2 separate regions of the Homo sapiens genome follow, and region 1 is linked to region 2. The links come from fine-mapping of genetic effects on gene expression. A gene starts in region 2. The other region holds a variant in brackets. All regions are shown on one strand. Distances are from middle to middle.

Region 1 (2,894 bases), 66 kb before region 2:
CAGTGCAGCCACCCTCAGGCTGTAATCCAGCCCCCACCCCCAGCCCGGCACTGGAGCCTTCCTGGCCCCAAGCTGCAGCGCCCAGTCCAGCCCTCCGTTTGGCAGGTCTGTTCCGGGAACTCCCCTGATCCACCCCTGCTCCGGCCACCTGGATCCCACACCCTTCCGATCCGTCCCACACATGTTCAGATTTCTGCCTGGAAACCTGGAAATGCCATGTGGTCCTGCAGGAGGCTGGTGCCACTCTCAGGGTCACCCTCTGTATCTCATCCTGGGGGTCTGCTGGACTCGAGTCTAGTTCTAGGACTAGAAGCCCAGGTGGGGGTCCCAAGGAGCATCGGCAGGGCCTTGCAGGGCAACTGCCTCAAGGGAGGCCACCCCGGGCCTTCAGCTAGAGGGGCTCTTCCGGCAATCCGGGCAGACACAGGCGTGTGTGGTCCCAGCTTCTCTGGATCTGCCCATGGGCCCCACTCCAATATTCAGGGTCATGGTTCTTTCCCAATCAACACCCGCTTTTAGGAGGAGACGACCGGCCAGGCTGGGCCCGGCTGCATGCAGTGTGAGGCTCTGGCTGCTAAGTCCTGCTCTTGCTGTGTTGTGCCCTGGGGGCCACCCTGTGTGCAGCCGCAGCTGTGACTGTGGCCTTGGCCACTGTGAGGCGGTGCTTGTCACACTCCCTTGCTGCTCTCGTGCCTTCTGCCCAGCACTCACCTGGAGGTGCACCCTGTGCGCCTTCCCCACTGCACCCTCTGCGGGCAGGCGTGCCCTCCCGGATCCCACATCTGGCCTGGCCCTGTGCGCTGCAAGCCCCCCTTGCCGTCCCTCACAGGCACCTTTCTCTGCTTCACTCTTTAGGGAGTTCAGTTACTTCCTGATCCTGATCCTGGCCTCAACCTGTGTGTTGGGAGCTCCTGGCCTCCTCGGGGTGAGGGGTCATGTGGACATCGACGCAGCTATGGTTGGGGCCTATCATCTCCTGAGGCCTGGCCCAGGAAACCCACACTCGGGGTGGCCCATTCAACAGCAGGTGTGAGGGTGGGGCTGAGCATCCTGCCTGGTGGGGGTCTGAGGGCACTGATGCTAAGTGGGGGACCAGGGCCTCCTCAGGGAGCTCCCACCTCAAGCCTGCAACTTGGCAATGGAAATTTATTATAAAATACCCTCAGCTGGCAACACAGCAGGCCCAAGCCAACGTCTCCTGCAGGCCTCGGACGGCCAGGGCTCTGGCTGGCCCCCAGAGTCACCGTCCTGTGATGAGGCACTCCACAAAAGGAAATACCAACCTCATGAAGACAGCGGGGACTCCATGGTCCTTGGGCCATGACTTGCTGGTCCTCAGAGGCCCTTGAGGTTTCAGGCCAAGGCTGGGGCCTGATGCCCACCTCCCTGCCCGCCCTCCTCGTCTCCCGGGAAGGGAGTGGGTGAGTCATGCGCGTGGGTAGAGTGACCAGAGGCTGATCCGCTGATCCTTGGAGCCCGCGGCCAGCAAGCCATCGGCGGTGAAGGCCACGCACTGGACAGCGGCGCTGTGGAAGGCCAGCACGGCCAGTGGCTGCATC[G/A]TCCGCCAGTGGAACACGCGGATGCGGTGGTCCCAGCCTGCGGTGGCCAGGATCTTGCGATCTGGCCGGATCGTGACCTCGGCGATCCCGGGATTGGTGAGTTCATGAGTCCCACGCACCTGTGAGAGTTGGGAGAGGTGTTAGGCCACTCCTTAAGCCCACAAGGCAGTGCTGCCCCTGGTGCCCCACCTGCAGCTGGAACCAGGAGAGACGCAGGCCCACAGGCCCGGGATGTGAGGGCCACACGCTCCTACCCAGCTGACCTCCCACTCTTCCTAAGGCCACGATGGGGGACTCCAGCCCTCCCCTCAGAGTGGTCTTCGGCCCTGCCCTGCTGCTCCTCGCACCAGCTCTGACCGACTCCTTCCCCAGTCAGAGAGCAGCAGAGACAGGGAGGTCCCAGCTGCAGGAGAGGGGCTGGGTCCCGGGACCCCTCACCCCAGGGAAGCCACTGCACCCTAGTGCCTAGCGAGAGGCCACGTCCCGGGCTTGATGGCAGCAGAATGCTGGCACTCCTCCCAGAAGAACCTCACAACCACCCCAAAGCTGACGAGGGTGAGAAATACAAACTCCATTTTCAGCAAAACCATGAGGTATGTGAACCCCCAAGCTCGACAGGGCTGGGAGCGCTGCCAAGAGCAAGACCCAGTGGGGGGTTGGCAGGATGAGGGGGGGACAAGGGGGAGACGCCCTGGAGGCGGCAGGAGCCACACAGTGTACCTTGCCTGGTGGGGGCAACGTCCCCGGCTGGGTTCTGAGAGGGGGTAGGGCACTGCACGAGACCCGGAGCCACACAGACAGGTCCTACGTGCACGGGGCCGTCGGGGTGCTGGCCTCTTCCTGGGCCGAGCGTTGGGGCCAGGGGGTGGTGGCATGTGCCTGTAATCCCAACTACTCGGGAGGAGGATCACCTGAGCCCAGTGGATGGAGGCTGCAGTGAGCTGAGATCACTGCCACCGCACTCCTGCCTGGGCGACAGAGTGAGACCCTGTCTCAAAAAAAAAAAAAAAAAAAGATACGCTCTAATAAAATTATTAGACTTCATAGCTAAAAAACCTTTGGTGGCCAGACAAAAAGACCATGTTGATGAGGGTGCTGTTTAGGCCGTCCTCAGAATGCTCCACAGCCACAGGGTGCCAAGGGATGACGGGGTGATGCCTGCAAGGCTGAGGAGGAAGGCGAGGTCCAAGTATTTTATATCCAGCCAAACTGTCGCTCAATTATAAAAACAACAGACCAACATTTCTGAACATGTAAGAACTCAGAGAATCCTGCACCCATAAGCTGTTCTTGAAAGACTAGAAGATTAACTCCAGTCTCGTAAGAGATAACTGG
Region 2 (2,894 bases):
GGCCTGCAGCACTAGAACCTGCCAGGGCCACTGGCCCTACCTCCACCACCCAAACACTCTGGAATCCCTCAGGTCTGACCCCCCTCTGGGGGGGGGGTCTTCACCTGAAAGCCCAGCCCATGACCCTGGCTTCCCACCTTACTGCAGGATTATACTAAGGCCTGGACGTGAGTCGAGTCCAGTCCAGTCCCTCACTGAGCTCTAAAAAAGCAGTGACCCCGATCCAGGGCCCAGCTCCCACCACCAGCCAAGGTTAGGTATCCAGGTTGCCCACAATGACCACACCCCATGCCCGGGAGCCACAGTGTGCTACCCAGATCTCTGCCTTCCCTTCTTCCCAGTCCCCTACCCTGCCCACTCACCTGCGCACCTGTGTCCCCTGCAGTCTGGGAGAAGGCTTCCCTGCACCAGCCAGCCAGGCCTGCTTTGGGCCTGAGCCTTCCTAACCCTGGGCCGCACTCTCACCATTTTGAGAACCTTAGCCCTCCCACGCCTATCAGTCTGTTGGTCCCCCTACTTTTCTCCCCACACTGCCTGGCATAGAAGACTTTCGGCCCTTCTAGACTGGACAGCACTATCCTAAAGGGGCAGGTACCACGGCGCATGTGTGTTTGCCCCCACAAGGCCAAAGGCAGCACCTGGAACGCTGGAGCCGTTCTCTGCTCTGGGGAGACCCAGGAGCCCCAAGAACAAAACCTGCCCAAAGCCTTAAAGCAAGCTGAGTGCAGACGACTGCACCGCCCGCCCCCCAGCAACCGCCATGCAGGAAATACGAGCTCACAAGGCCCACGGCAACAAGAAGCCCACCCACCTGAGGCTACGCGAATCGCCCGCGAAGAGGGTCCTGGGATCCGTAGCCACAGACCGTGGGACGGGCCTCCCTCTGAGGGCGAGAGTCCAGGCGCCACCTAGAAAGTGGAGAACGAGATCGGCCGCCGTGAGGCCAGGCAAGGAGCGGGCGCGGCTTCCCGAGACTGCGAGAACGGCCCAAATGTCTCCAGGTGCCCCCACAAACCCCCGGCGCGGACCGAGAAACTGAGGCCCGCAGACCGAAGGCACTGCGACCCAGGCTGGGGCTCCGAGTGCCCCTCTGCGGATCAGAAGTCGGGAAAAGACGCAGGGGCGCAGCTCCAGGCCCGCGTGCACGGAGTTCAAGCCGGCCGCCCGGGCTCCCGCCTCCACACTGACCCTCTTGCCGGAGTCGGGAACGCCTGCTCCTAGGAGCGCCGCGCAGCGTCCAGAGACCGATTACATCGCGCAGCCACGCCCCCAGCGTGCGCGCGGCCGCCGTGTACGACCCGGCGCATGCTCCCGGCACGCTCCACGCGCTCCTCCCATCCAGGCCGCGCCTGCGCTGTATGCCGTGTGGCCGCTACCTCGCAGGCTCTCCCGGTCCCTGCTGGCGCGGCAGTGCCGCGCGGTGGGTGATGGGAGAGCGCGCCCATTCCCACGCCGCGCCAAGTGCCACGGGATCAGGTGGGGCCGCGTGTACAGGCGCGAGACGGTCGGGCCAAAGCTGCCCCTCATGATCCCCAGCGGACGGTGCCCGGCGGTCCCTCAGATCCGGGAAATCTGCACCCGGCTGTGGCGTAGACCGAGGGGCCGATGCTGCTTCAGCCCGCCGTTACTGCCCTGGCGTCAGCCAGACACTGGGGTGCTGCTGGGCGTCGAGAGGGCTGCTGCGGGGCCGGGCTAAGCCTGGGGGGCTGCAGGTGTCGGGGTGGATGTGGGCATAGCGGGGCTGCTGGGCCTCGTGAGCGCCCTGGAACGGCGTGCCCGCGGAGTGCCTCTCATCACTCATTGCCAGTGCGGGGAACCTTGTTAGGGCCCGGTTCGACGTAGCTGCAGGCTGGGCGCCAGAGGCAGGGGGCAGGCAGTCCGAGAGGACCCTCTACCTGCATACCTGGGGGCTGCAGGCAGGGCCTCTGGGCCTCCTTGTTGTGGATATAATTGTGTGCTTCCCGACTCAGGCCGAGGCTGGACCCGGAGACGACAGCGAGGGCAGGCTACCAAGCCCTCCCCACAGGGCCGTGCCCAGCCCAAGCCTGCCGAGTCAGCACCCAGATCCTGGGACAAGATAGGTGAGGATGAAGTGGTGGTGCTCTTCTCACTTGCACAAGCCGTCCCACGCCACCTCTCCTCGGCTTCACGGTGCCTAGAGAAGAGGTGGGAGAGGGTGCAGGCGCCCCAGCTCAGGATCTGATGCCTGTGGGCCAAGGACCTGGATGCAAGCCAGGAGTCCTTGGGGCCACGGGCAGGCAGCCGGATTCACCGGAAAGTGACGCTTCTCAAGGGGAACACACACGTAACACACCAGCTCCCTTTCTGCCCTGGTCCAGTGACTCCTTTCATGAAAGCTCTCTGAAATGTTATCTGCATTTACACCCAAACTCACTCACTTTGATCCCTGAAACGCGAATCAAAGGTCACATTGTACCTTCCCTGGGTCTGTGGGGCTTTCAGCAGCCTGGGCCAAAAATAATAAAAGTGGCACCGAGCCAGGAAACGCCTCCTTGAAGTGGGAATGAAATTTGGATTTTTTTCGGTTGTATCTTTCCTAATTGACCTGATAATTTAAACTTCCTCCCTCAAGGGAAAGGTGGGGGTTCCCACAAATTCAGCTTACCTCAGCCTCAAGGCAGCTCAGTCTACAGCTCAGCGCCCATCAGCAGAGTGGGCAGTGGGCCTGTGGAAGAAATGAATCCAACTGAGCCAGAAAAGGCCTTTTTTGGTCCAAATTTTTTTTTTCTTTCAGGCCCTCTCCTGTGTATAACTGTCATGCACCGCATAACAACGTTTTGGTCAACTAGGGACCACATATGTAACTGGTCATCCAGTAAGCTATAGTTATTTTATTATTGAAGAAAGAAAATTTTTAGGCCAGGCGCTGTGGA

The links. PIP is the estimated chance that this variant, and not a neighbour inherited with it, causes the effect.
Region 1: its variant is fine-mapped to the expression of GNB1L in whole blood (TOPMed, PIP above 0.99).

Annotation. Positions count from the first base shown.
Region 1 is chr22:19,787,283-19,790,176 of GRCh38, forward strand. It overlaps GNB1L (G protein subunit beta 1 like), which reads right to left. Exons shown (of 8, transcript NM_053004.3): 8 at 1-1,678. The coding sequence ends at 1,427. Among named protein-coding and RNA genes, the nearest start is that of TBX1, 28 kb to the left of the region's middle. The variant G/A (reference allele first, on the strand shown) is at 1,560.
Region 2 is chr22:19,853,632-19,856,525 of GRCh38, forward strand. GNB1L (G protein subunit beta 1 like) reads right to left here and starts at 1,243. Exons shown (of 8, transcript NM_053004.3): 1 at 1,189-1,243; 2 at 812-908. It overlaps RTL10 (retrotransposon Gag like 10), which reads right to left and starts at 1,243. Exons shown (of 3, transcript NM_024627.6): 1 at 1,029-1,243; 2 at 812-908. It overlaps LOC124905080 (a long non-coding RNA gene), which reads left to right and starts at 1,341. Exons shown (of 2, transcript XR_007068005.1): 1 at 1,341-2,081. RefSeq lists enhancers at 1-351, 1,774-2,253.